Linked DNA regions of Homo sapiens. The protein of the gene in region 4 purifies or fractionates together with the protein of the main gene of each other region. This does not show direct contact. Each region holds a gene or a part of one and is shown on either strand. Other genes may lie near its edges.

Evidence for each region. The genes of interacting proteins can lie anywhere in the genome.
Region 1: the proteins of RNPS1 (region 4) and CSNK2A1 purify together in Homo sapiens (affinity purification with mass spectrometry; 4 studies listed by BioGRID and IntAct, with this or other methods). This does not show direct contact.
Region 2: the proteins of RNPS1 (region 4) and UPF3B purify together in Homo sapiens (co-immunoprecipitation; 5 studies listed by BioGRID and IntAct, with this or other methods). This does not show direct contact.
Region 3: the proteins of RNPS1 (region 4) and UPF2 purify together in Homo sapiens (co-immunoprecipitation; 5 studies listed by BioGRID and IntAct, with this or other methods). This does not show direct contact.

What each region holds. Positions count from the first base shown.
Region 1 is NC_000020.11:498,791-502,290, forward strand, and holds part of CSNK2A1 (casein kinase II subunit alpha), read right to left. Parts: intron 1,145-3,500; coding exon 1,043-1,144; intron 516-1,042; coding exon 465-515; intron 1-464. UniProt on the Homo sapiens protein: Catalytic subunit of a constitutively active serine/threonine-protein kinase complex that phosphorylates a large number of substrates containing acidic residues C-terminal to the phosphorylated serine or threonine.
Region 2 is NC_000023.11:119,842,964-119,846,463, reverse strand, and holds part of UPF3B (regulator of nonsense transcripts 3B), read left to right. Parts: intron 1-1,167; coding exon 1,168-1,266; intron 1,267-3,162; coding exon 3,163-3,273; intron 3,274-3,500. UniProt on the Homo sapiens protein: Involved in nonsense-mediated decay (NMD) of mRNAs containing premature stop codons by associating with the nuclear exon junction complex (EJC) and serving as link between the EJC core and NMD machinery.
Region 3 is NC_000010.11:11,948,810-11,952,309, forward strand, and holds part of UPF2 (regulator of nonsense transcripts 2), read right to left. Parts: intron 3,441-3,500; coding exon 3,257-3,440; intron 1-3,256. UniProt on the Homo sapiens protein: Involved in nonsense-mediated decay (NMD) of mRNAs containing premature stop codons by associating with the nuclear exon junction complex (EJC).
Region 4 is NC_000016.10:2,252,620-2,255,373, forward strand, and holds the end of RNPS1 (RNA-binding protein with serine-rich domain 1), read right to left. Parts: intron 1,445-2,754; coding exon 1,345-1,444; coding exon of another isoform or gene 1,278-1,344; 3' UTR 501-1,277; downstream 1-500. UniProt on the Homo sapiens protein: Part of pre- and post-splicing multiprotein mRNP complexes. Auxiliary component of the splicing-dependent multiprotein exon junction complex (EJC) deposited at splice junction on mRNAs.

The DNA.
Region 1 (3,500 bases), on a different chromosome or scaffold from region 4:
TGTGTTATGGCAGAATTTGACATTATCCTTCCTCGATCCCTGCCTTTTAAGATCTATAGCCCACAGTTTATGAGGAATCCTAAGAAATAAGCAGTCCCTACTTTTATACATACAATATATTTCTTCCTGAACACTATTGTTTAAAGCGAATTGCCATATGGCCAGATCCTAAGTGAACGTGTGTTACTGCCTTCATTAGGTTGGACATCAGCAGAAACTGTCAACTAAGTAGTGAGAAGTCAATGTGTTGGTCATTAAAAAGAACATTAAACAAATGGGCAAAATATCAAGATGCAGAAAGTGGGCACTGCTTATATAGGAGTTCTTCTATCTTAAAATTTGCACTGTAAGGATGAAAAGCTTTTTAAAAACAAATGCGAAGCAAGCTCTTCTAACAGCATCATCCCCAAAGGCTATGTGGTCTAAAAACCCACTAGCCCGAAACAGTTGGTTATATATTATACCTTGAAGTCTGTGTTGTTTACGTGTTCAAAAACCAAGGCGGGGGTTCGTGACTAGGGGAAAAGAACAAAAACAAAAACACACATTAGCAATAGCCCTGACAGCTTTAATGGGGACAATGTTTGCGGATGCTGCGTGGTGAAATTTGGCAGTCCTCGCCTCAGTAGTAAGAAACCCTCTATTGCTACAAGCCCTCCCCGCTCTGATCATCACCGCACTTAGGTCATTTTTGGGATGGATTTCAAACAGAAGACATGGAGCTGAAGTCTCACCAGGCTCTAGGCAGCCCGACAATGCGCCCATCGCCCATCGGCATCGGACCTGAGTTTGCAAAATGGATTAACACATTTCAGTTTCCAGTGCTATCAGTCTCTTAGCCTAGAAGAATAAGAAATAGTCTGTGGGTGGAGGTCTCTTTGAAAGAAAGACCCAAGCTAGTTAAATGGTATATCTGATTAAGCACTTTCAAAGCAGGACTTAATGATGAGGGTTGGGGGAGGGAACAAAAAGAGGCCAGTTGTGCTCCAGGTCAAACACCATCTCAGCTCTGGCGGGCCTTGCTAACACCTACTATACTCACCACAGGGTCTTTTACAATGTCTGCCAGTGTGATGATGTTGGGACCTCCTCTCAAATTCTCCAAAATCTTTATTTCACGCTTAATTTTCTTCTTTTTTACTGGCTGAAAGGGGAAAAGTACATCAGCAAAAAAAAAAAAAAAAAATTTTTTCAGAGTATTTCAACACGTAGTGTAATACATAAATGATAAATGGCTTACTTATGAGCACACCTTGAAGGAAGAAAATGTGTCACATTCGTCTCTGAATCCTTCTCCTAGCACTGTGCCAGGTATTCTGCAGGTACTTACAAATGTTGAATTGAAAGAAAAAAAGATTTCTATTCCAAAGACCAGACACTTCTGCAGAATTAGCATTTCAATCATCAGTCTTGATGTTAATGTTTTAAAACATGTTAAACATGTTAATGTCTTAAAACCTTACAAAGTAGCAATTTAAATCGTTAGTAATACTAAAGTATATCAAACTTTTTATCAATTAGGATGAAACATGGGCCCTTTCCATTTCTTCCTCTAATTAGGGCCAACAACAAGGATGGCCAAAACATCTTTGTGTAGCACAACCCTGAGGGTAAAGGGTGAGTCTTGGAGTCACAATGCCCAATGTGAAACCTACCTTTACTACCTGCTGGCTGTTAATGGCAAACTACATAACCTCTCTAAGCCTTTCATTAAGTGTAAAATGAGTAACAAGAGTACCCATCTCATAAGATTGTTGCAAGAATCAAATGAGGTATTCGAAAGATTTCGGAATATGGCTGAAACATAACATAATAATAACTGTCTAGCCTGATCACCAATGCTCTTTTTTTTTTTTTTTTTTTTTTGAGACAGAGTCTTGCTCTGTCACCCAGGCTGGAGTGCAGTGGTGCAATCTTGGCTCACTGCAACCTCCGCCTCCTGGGTTCACGCCATTCTCTTGCCTCAGCCTCCCGAGTAGCTGGGACTACAGGCACCCGCCACCAGGCCAGGCTAATTTTTGTATTTTTAGTAGAGACGGGGTTTCACCGTGTTAGCCAGGATGGTCTCGATCTCCTGACCTCGTGATCTGCCTGCCTCGGCCTCCCAAAGTGCCAATACTCTTATAAATGAACCCCTCCATTCTAAAGAGTATTCTGCAGAGCATATCTTAAACATTCCTTTGTCCTTACCCATTCTTTCCACATCTGTTCTAGTATGGAATCCTTTTCATTTTTTTCTGAGGAGGGCCTTGGTCCCACTGCACCTCCTTTATAAAGCCTTTTTTTTTTTTTGAGACAGAGTCTTGCTCTGTCGCCCAGGCTGGAGTGTAGTAGCATGATCTCAGCTCACTGCAACTTCCGCCTCCCGGGTTCAAGCAATTCTCCTGCCTCAGCCTCCCGAGTAGCTGGGATTACAGGCGCCAGCCACCATGCCCAGCTAATTTTTGTATTTTTAGTAGAGACAGGGTTTCATCATGTTGGTCAGGATCGTCTCGAACTCCTGACCTCATGATCCGCCTGCCTTGGCCTTCCAAAGTGCTGGGATTATAGGCATGAGCCACTGTGCCTGGGCTTATATTATAAAGCCTTCTCCTGAATAGTCTAAAACAGTGCTGGCCCAAAGGAAATATAATACAAACCACATGTGTAATTTTAAATGTGTTAGTAGCCACATCAAGAAAATTTTAAAAAGGACAAAATTAATGTACTTTATTAATCTAAAATCTTAACATATAAATCAATATAAAAATTATTAATCTATTTTACCTTTTTTTGTATTAAACCCTTGAAATCTAATGTATTTTACTCTTACAGCATATCTCAATTCAGCCCAGCCATATTTCAAGTGCTTAACAGCCTCATGTGGCCTGCGTGCCTGCTGTACTGGACTGTGCAGGTCTTTTCCTAGGGTGTTGGTCACCTCAGACTAGATGCACTGCATATAACTCTTAGAAGTTAAGTACATCTCATCTCTTCATTAACAAGATTGGTGGTTACTAAAGTTTGATGACCAACAATCACCTGGATTTTTTTAATATACAGACTCACAGAACCCACCAAGATTCACTAAATCAAAATCTTGAGAGGGAAACGGGGGATTTATTTTTAGATACTTTCCAGGCTGATGATCCAGGTCCAGAAACTACCAAATAATACTATAAATTCTTTTAACTTTGTCTTAAGCCTCAAGCACATGATAGCAGAAAGCAAGCAGATTTTGGAAACATTGACAGTTCTCAAAACCTGGCTTTGTGGTTGTGCAGTGTTCAGAAAAGCATTTAAATGTTTCTCACTGCTGAAAGGGACTATACTCGCCTGTTAGTGATTTACATACCACAGTTAGAACAGGTCCAATGCAAAGTGGTACCCAATAAACAGAAGCTATTTTACTAATGACTTCCATGTAGTCCATTGAATTCAACCCACGACCTCTTACCCAATACAATATCTACCTAAGAAACAAGATAATATAAGTCTTCTCTTCCTGCTTCAACTATTCA
Region 2 (3,500 bases), on a different chromosome or scaffold from region 4:
CTCCGCCTCCCAGGTTCAAGTGATTCTCCTGCCTCAGTCTCCCAAGTAGCTGGGATTACAGGCGTGCACTATCACGCCTGGCTAATTTTTGTATTTTTATTTATTTTTATTTTTATGTATTTATTTTTTTGAGACGGAGTCTTACTCTGTCGCCCAGGCTGGAGTGCAGTGGCATGATCTCGGCTCACTGCAATCTCTGCCTCCTGGGTTCAAGTGATTCTCATGCCTCAGCCTCCAGAGTAGCTGGGATTGCAGGCACGTGCCACCACGCCCAGCTAATTTTTGTATTTTTAGTAGAGACAGTGTTTCACCATGTTGGCCAGGCAGGTCTCAAACTTCTGACCTCAGGTGATCCTCTCATCTCGGCCTCCCAAAATGCTGGGATTATAGGCATAAGCCACGGTGCCCAGCCCAACGTGATAATTTTATATATGTATACATTATGAAATGTATACATTATGAAATGTATACATATTGTATACATATATACATTATGAAATGTATACATAATGTATACATATATACATTATGAAATATATACAATCAAGTTAACACATTCATCACCTCACATAACACATCACCTCAAATAGTTACACTTTTAAAAAATAACAGCTTTATTGAGATATAATTCACATGCCTGAAATAGTCACCCTTTTAAAGTATACAGTTCAGTGAATTTTAGTATATTCATAGGCTTATGAGCCTATCACCACAATCTAAATTTAGAACATGTTCATCACCCCTAAGAGAAACCCCACCCATTAGTTGTCACTCCTCATTCTTCTCACCACTTCTACCCCAAACTCCAGGCAGCTACTACTCTACGTTCTGTCTCTATAGATTTGCCTATTTTGGAGATTTCTAACATTTTAAAATGAAAAATAGTTTGTAGGGTCTTTTTCACATTAAAATATCACATTTTATAAGTTGAATTTATATGAATATTTTACTTTCATGCCGTGTTGTTTCACTATGTTATCAGTGTGAATTTGTGGCTCCTTTTGTAGTATGTTGATTATGGTTGTGCCAGTGTGCTTTATGCCTTTGGGAGACCCTCTTCAGATGACTGCCATCAAAAGAGTCATAGAAAGCAATGGGTTGATTCCCTTATATCCACTTTTGACATTTTCTTTGTTATAGCAAGTGTGGTATTTTTTTTCTAAACAGGTCAGGAATATCCCGCTATAGTAGAATTTGCACCTTTTCAAAAAGCTGCAAAAAAGAAGACTAAGAAAAGAGATACCAAAGTCGGGACTATCGATGATGGTACAGTATAGCTCTAATTATATAATGCTATTGCTGTGGGGTTTTTAAAAATAATATCTTTGTGAGAGTTAATTCGACCCCAAAATTTTAAATTAGAAAATATACAAAATAAAGTAAGTGAGAAATGTTATTTGCCGATGGAAGCTTTGCTTAATTGTTAGACTAGAGAGAGTTTCTTGCACAGAATCTCTGCTCTCTTTGGCTAGGGCATTTCATTCTTCAACCATTGAACAATATAATGTTGACTATTGAGTAACAAATCACCATAGGTTTATTGATTAGAAGATAGTGGAAAGGCCAGGCGTGGTGGCTCACGCCTATAATCCCAGTACTTTGGGAGGCCAAGGCGGGCGGATCATCTGAGGTCAGGAGTTTGATACCAGCCTGACCAACATGGAGAAACCCTGTCTCTACTAAAAATATAAAATTAGCCGGGTATGGTGGTGCATGCCTGTAATCCCAGCTATTCGGGAGGCTGAGGCAGGAGAATCTCTTGAACCCAGGAGGCGGAGGTTGCAGTGAGCTGAGATCACACCATTGCACTCCAGCCTGGGCAACAAGAGCGAAACTCCATCTCAAAAAAAAAAGAAAAAGAAAATAGTGGAAAAAAATCAGGTTTCAAAGTTTAACAGGTGCTTCTTGAGGCCTCACCATTTTTATGATTATTTATTTGACTTTTGGTTTCCATTATATTTATAAAGAAGAAGGTTTGAACTGTCATGGGAAAATTTCCATACCCAGGTAACTTTGTATAAAGTAGCTGAAGTTGTCACTCCTATTTTCTGGTCTTTGGATATACAATTAGCTACACACATAGTATTAGGTTGAACAGGAATAGAAGAACTGAGGCCAGGCGCGGTGGCTCACTCCTATAATCCCAGCACTTTGGGAGGCCAAGGCGGGCAGAGTTGCTGAGGTCAGGAGTTCGAGACCAGCCTGGCCAACATGGTGACACCCCATCTCTACTAAAAACACAAAAATTAGCTAGGCATGGTGGCGGGCACCTGTAATCCCAGCTGCTTGGGAAGCTGAGGCAGAAGAATCACTTGAACCCGGGAGGCGGAGGTTGCAGTGAGCTGAGACCGCACCATTGCACTCCAGCCTGGACAACAAAAGCAAAACTCCGTCTCAAAAAAAAAGAAAGAAAGAAAGAAATACAAGAACTGAAAAACCAAAATAATTGCCATTTAAGGTACACTGGCTCCAGATTTTGAGACCTCTGTAATGTTATGTTAGATAGCTGTTACACAACTCTTTATGTTGGATAAGGACTAGGACCATATTTTATATCAGATTGTTACTTTAGAATCATCTAGTTTAATTTCCATCATTTGTTACTATTACAGGTATTTTATAAAGAAAACACGGTAAGGACTCAATAACACATAGCTGTGATACTGGTTTTATTACAGATTTAGATCTGGAAGACTTGATCAAGTGACACATAGAAACAAGCAATATAATGGCTTAGATGTGTCACCCTTTCTGATGTTAGAGGTCTAGGAGAGAACTCCAGGAATTCCCATCACCTCAAGTGCCACATCTAGGACTTCTCTCTAATTTATCTTTTTGGAACACCTAACTTAGTTTAGTAGGACAGTGACTTTTAAAAGCAAACTATGTAATACCCCTAGTGGTTCTGTTATAATGCATGGCGTCTCATTTTTCCTGACCCCATGTTATACCAGATTCCTATAGTGAGTATCAGTGATAGGAGTCCTGAGAGCAAGTGACCAATTAAGCTCTAAATAGTCTACCTTGTGGGTATGGTTTGGTTTTTTTTAATCTTCCACGAAGTAAAAAATTATCTTCTTTGATAAATCAGTATTGTAGATAATGTCTTCTTTTTTTGTTTAAAGTCTATTATATTTTCTGTTTCCTCAAATGATTATTTAGATCCAGAATATAGAAAGTTTTTGGAAAGTTATGCCACAGATAATGAGAAAATGACATCTACTCCAGAGACACTGCTAGAGGAAATAGAAGCAAAAAATAGAGAATTAATAGGTAAGTGGGCAAAAAGAATCAGGGCAACAGTCTTTTCATCACAGTACCTAAGTCTCCTACCTCCATCAGTTGCTAGCTGTGTGACTTCAGGGAAGTTACTAGTTTCTCTGAGACTGTTACTGTAAATTGCAGATGGTAATACCTGCCTCACAGCATTATGAGAATCCATTAAAGTGGGAAAAATTCTTTGACCTATTTAGTTTCACACAAATGTAATATAAATACAA
Region 3 (3,500 bases), on a different chromosome or scaffold from region 4:
GGACAAAGGTAGAAAACAGTAACAGATGAGGTACAGTCTCAGCCATATGTAAGATACAGCGTTGGCCACACTCTTTACCAAGTGAGATTTAAAGAGTCTCCAAAAACTCAAAAGACATGAAAAAAATCGTGCCACTTTAATGGAGAAATCATATGTGGCTATCAATTTGAATGTATGCAAATTAAGACGGGGGAATGGGGCAAAACGCCATAGCAGCTTTGTCACCATACAGACTAATTTTTTTTCTTCAATAACAGCATTCTCCTCCTAAGCCTAATGGAACTCCCTGGCCTGAATTTGCTTTCACCTCCTGTGTCCATCCCACATTTCACTGCCCAGTCAATTCTTCTTCCTGTTGGAATTCCAATCCACCCTCTCTACTTTTGATATGCACACAATGTGGTCTCATCTGATCCCACTGATCTGCTACCCACTCCTCTCTCCTAAGCCCTCCCCTGAAGTTGCCTTAGACGTCTCCTGTCACAGAACACACTGCTTTGAAATCTTGCTTGCCCAATATCCTTCTCAATAGAGAATACCCTTCAATATGCACTTTCAAATCCCATCCACTCTTCATGTTCAGTTTCAGTTTTACTTCCTGCATGAACTGTCAATGAGTACTTCAATCTATTACTTTTTCTCCTATTTGCTCCTAAAGCATGTGGAGAACTTACAGCATCTTACATTTGATGATATAGCATGTTGTTATTTTTTCCTAACGATCTCATAAATATTACATCAGATTATAAGACCCCTGAGGACAAAGAACTTGTCTTAAATGTTCAAAACTTAAGACAGCCCATATATTAATAAATACACAGTAGGTGTTAAATAAATACCTGTTCATGCATAGAATCTTAGAGGATTCAAGCAGGAAGAAACTTTAGCGATGATGTGATTTAACCCTCTCATTTCATGAATACTGCTTTGAACACTTCCAAACCAGAATTAAATAACATTGCCAATTACCATTTTAGTTTTGTTCTTAAATTAAAATAAAAATCTGAGCCAGTAATCCTATCTATCCTGAGAAAATCACAGGTACACTAAAAATATTATTTACAGTGGTATAAAACTAGAATCAACCTAAGAGTGAAACAGCTGTATTAAGTAAATTATGGCACATAGATACAAATGAATACAGCCAATTACAAAACAAAAAATAAAGCTTTAAGAGAATATGTGTAATGTCAAGAAAAAATTTCATAATGTATTAAGTAGAACCAATTGGTTAGAAAATCACAAACACAAAAAAAATTTAAAAAGAGTAGAAAAATATGTATTAAAATATTAACACGATTATCTTTCTGTATGGAATATTGGTATTGCTTTCTTGGTTTTTTAAAAATTACTGTCATGAACACATTACTTTTAATACTATTAAAAGTTATTTTTAAAATATGATAAAAATGGTTTTAGTGTTTTCCAATTAACTATTATGTTAACATTGGGATACTATAAAACTAACATGAGACAATGAATTTTCAGGTGTCTGAAAACAAAAAACTACCAAAGGCACAATACTGTATTATCTTTTGGTTTATCAGTAGGAAACGGATTTAATATTGATTTTTCTGCATACGTCTTCTTCCTCAACCAGGAAGCAAATGGAGACTTGGGAGTGCACTGATTGCGGCCGCTACCATCTTTAGAGTTTCATTCACAAACAGCGATCTATTTTTACCTCCATATTCTAAACAAGGACAAAGTCCTCACAAGAAGCCTGCAGTCCTTTAATTTAGCCTTTTGATCTACAAAGGACAAAGCACAACTGTTCTCTTTTCTGTCACTAAACTAGGTGTCACACTAATATTTACTCATGTCCACTATACAGAGAATACCATTCATGCAGGTTTTTGGGAAACAAGGCTAAGACTTAACAATTTTCCAAGGATCCAAAGCAAGTGAAATAAGTTCATAAATACTCTGCTCAATATGAGATCATGTATTCAATTAGAAATTTCAAAAGGAAAAGAAAGTAGGTAACTTGGAAAAAGGTTCAAAGAACAAAAAGAATCATATATGCCTTTACGGGTTAAGTTGTAGGAAAAGTTAATACTTGCACAATCAGTAGCAGCACTTGTAAAACCTTTACCATGAAAAGTGGTTCTTCAGATATGCGATGTCGTAAATTTATATAATTTGCATAACTGGCGAAAGTAAAGATCCCTTAATGACAGACATGAATGTACCAAGTTCTAGTGGGAAATCAAACACTAGCTTAATAGTCTGAAAACGGGTCACTTTTTATTTATTTACTTTATTTTTTTGAGATGGAGTTTCGCTCTTGTTACCCAGGCTGTAGTGCAATGGCGTGATCTTGGCTCACTCCAACCTCCGTCTCCCGGGTTCAAGCGATTCTCCTGCCTCAGCCTCCTGAGTAGCTGGGATTACAGGTGTGCGCCAACATTCCTGGATAATTTTTGTATTTTTAGTAGAGATGGGGTTTTGCCATGTTGGCCAGGCTGGTCTCAAACTCCTGACCTCAGGTGATCTGCCTGCCTCGGCCTCCCAAAGTGCTGGGATTACAAGTGTGAACCACCACACCTGGCCAAAACGTGTCACTTTAAAATGACTACAATAAAACATGCTAAGAACTATCAGCATATAAACCAGATTGGTATGGCTATACTTTGTACTGGTTATTTCTAAAGACATATAGGTTCCTGCAGCTCTAGTGGAAGCTGTTCAAGAGTTAACTCTTCTCCCCAAAACAACCTCAGGATACTAAAGTATATAGAGAACCTTCTAATTATCTCTAGATTTTCTCTAGTCCTTAGAGACAGAAGCAACTCTGCCAGTGGGTAAGCTCTGAAATCCTGTAGGGTAGAGTTCCAAACTTCTGACAGGTACTCCCTTCTACAGTTTCTTTGCTTGCACTTTCTAGGAAATAATGCCTGTTGAAAATATATACGCAAAAATAAGAAATGCTTTAATAAAAAATAGATTTTATATTAGCAACCAAAAATTCTAAAAGTAAGAGAGGTAGACAGGATTGTGGGTTTTTTTTCCCCCATCACTGTCACCTGCTTCAAGTCCTGTCCTGCAAGTCCTGCTTAACTGTTGTCCTCCGGTTTGAAATTACTTAGTGAAATCAAGCACACCACACAGGCATTACCTAACACTACTACGTAACACTCAACACCGAAAATAGAAAAGATACAATGTAAGCTCTGACTGGTAACATTATAAAGCAAATTCCAGAAATAATCTGCCAAATATCACCTTCATTTTCTGTCTGCAATCAATTGCTTACCTAGTTTTATTAAGAATTCTCGTTCCAAGTCTTGTACCTGCCTGATGGATTCTTCCAGAGAATTACAGAGTTTGATCTTTGGTCTTAGCAGTTCTAGTGTATCACTGATCATGTAATCTATATCAATAGGAAATGGATGGTCTTTTGTCCAAACCTCCAAACTTTTCTTCCACCAAACATAACGCTGATAACAAATGAAAAATAAATTTAGCTATAAGAAATTAGTAACAAAATATTTTAAAAT
Region 4 (2,754 bases):
TCTCTACTAGAAATACAAAAAATTAGCTGGGCATGGTGGCAGGTGCCTGTAATTCCAGCTACTCAGGAGGCTGAGGCAGGAAAATCACTTGAACCCAGGAGGCAGAGGTTGTAGTGAGCCAATATTGCGCCACTGCACTCCAACCCAGGCAACAGAGACTGTCTCAAAAAAAAAATTAAAAAATTAAAAAAAAATTAGCCCCTGCTACTCTGGACACTGAAGAAGGAGTTGGAGGCTGTAATGAGCTATGATCGCACCATGGTACATACTCCAGCCTGGGTGACAGAGCGAGAGTCTGTCTGAAAACACACACACATTCCAAGGTGGCGATAAAACCATCTCCTTCTATTTGTCCACCCTAGGAGCAACCTGGTCCCCACAGCACACAAACCCTAGGTTCTCCTGGCTGAAAGCATCGGAGGTGCCACTGCGGATGGTGAGGAACAGAAAGTTACTAGGGGCGAGGGGACAAGTGAGAAGGCAGTGAACCCAGAACTAGATTTGCATTCCGATCTTGGGTTTATTCAACACAATTCTTCCACTCTACACAACAAAGTACAAACACAATGTCATCTAAAATGCTACAAAGGTATAAAACTCAAAAGAGAAATTTTATAGTACTGACTGTACAATGAAAGCAAAAAAGAAAAAAAATAAAAGCAATGTACATGTTGCCAAGATAACCTGAAAGACCACCATGAACGGCAGGCACAACCATGGCTGCGTGATGACTCCGCAGAGCTGGCTCTCCACTCACTCGCCAATTTCAGAGTACAGTGGTGGGGTGCGGTGTGTGCATCGGTGCACGGACAGACAGAACCACGAGCAGCAACTACCATGGGTGAGAGGATCTTTGAGGGGGTGTGACCCTTGAGGTCAGAAGAGGCCTCGAGAGGCCAGGCCTAACAGGGTTGGCAGCTGCACTAAAGCCTGGGGCAGCTCCCTTTCCAAAAGGACACTGCCCAGCAACAGCAAGGGCACGGCCTGGCCACCATCCCAGGTCATCGGGGAAGGGAAAAGTGTGCTCCCAGGTAAGCAGGGTCAAACCACCCCCAAGAGCCTCACTTTTCCCTGGTGGCTCTGCCACTGAACTGACTCTTAGAAACCGGAAACGGATGAGCTTTCTAGCCAGAAAACCGGAGGGAATCTTGACAGGCACACAGCATCCAAACCAACAGCACTTCTGCAGCCGGGGCCCGGCTGGCAGAGGGGTGCTGCCTGCTGCCTGCAAATCCTGCCAGAGTCAAGGGTTTGCTTTCCTACTGGTCTTCCTTTGGCTAGAAAAGTGACAAAACTGAGCTGGGTGGGGTATAAGTTACAGGGGCGAGAGCTTCAGTGGCCTGTTTATCGGGAGGAGTTGGAGCTGGAGCGGCTCCTGTGGCGGCGGCGGCCCGGGGACCGTGATCTCCGGCGCACGGGGGACCTGCGCCTCGGGGAGCGGGACCTGCGGGAAGAGGAGAAACCACATCAGAGTAGCTCAGGCTGTAGGGGCAAGCTAGCTTCTTTCTGGGCAATTCCCCATAGTTTTACTTTTTGAGATGGAATATCACTCTGTCTCCAGGCCAGAGTGCAGTGGCACGATCTCAGCTCACTGCAACCTCTGCCTCCAGGGTTCAAGCGATTCTCCTGCCTCAGCCTCCCATGCAACTGGGACTACAGGCGCGCGCCACCACGCCCAGCTAATTTTTGTGTGTGTATATATTTATTTTGAGATGGGGTCTCACTCTGTTGCCCAGGCTGAGTGCAGAGGCGCAATCTCGGCCTCCCAGGTTCATGCCATTCTCCTGCCTCAGCCTCCCGAGTAACTGGGACTACAGGCACACGCCACCACGCACAGCTAATTTTGTTTTGTTTTTTTTAGTAGTGACGGGGTTTCACCGTGTTAGCCAGGATGGTCTCGATCTCCTGACCTCGTGTTCCGCCCACCTCGGCCTCCCAAAGTGCTGGGATTACAGGCGTGAGCCACCATGCTAGGCCTAATTTTTATATTTTTTGTACGGATGGGGTTTCACCATGTTGGCCAGGATGGTCTCGACCTCCTGACCTTGTGATCCACCCACCTCAGCCTCCCAAAGTGCTGGGATTACAGGCGATTGCTACCACACGTGGCAAAGTTTTACCTTTTTTTTTTTTTTTTTTTGAGATGGAGTCTCACTCTGTTGCCCAGGCTGGAGTGCAGTGGCATGATCTTGGCTCACTGCAAGCTCCACCTCCCGGGTTCACGCCATTCTCCTGCCTCAGCCTCCCGAGTAGCTGGGACTACAGGCACCCACCACCACGCCCGGCTAATTTTTTTGTATTTTTAGTAGAGACAAGGTTTCACTGTATTAGCCAGGGTGGTCTCGATCTCCTAACCTCGTGATCTGCCCGCCTCAGCCTCCCAAAGTGATTACAGGCCTGAGCCACCATGCCTGGCAGAAGTTTTACTTTTTAATACTAGAAGTTGGGACAGGTCCCACCTGATGGGCCTGCCCTGAGCTCTTGGGAACGGGTGCTTGTGAGACCCAAGGCAGAAGCCCAGGCTTTCCTCCTCTTCCCCAAAGGCTGAAAGCACAGCTCACCACCGGCAACGGAAGACCAAACTGTGGCCTCTGCCGAGGGATTACCACCCCCGCCCCACAACTCTTCTGACCCCCAACTTCTCCCTCTCCTAGCTCTTCTTGTTAGCTCAGAAAAAGGTGGGCCTGCACCTGGGCTCACAGGTCTAGTGGTCTCCTAGGAAGGCCACACCACGCCACTGCCCAGACTCAGAAA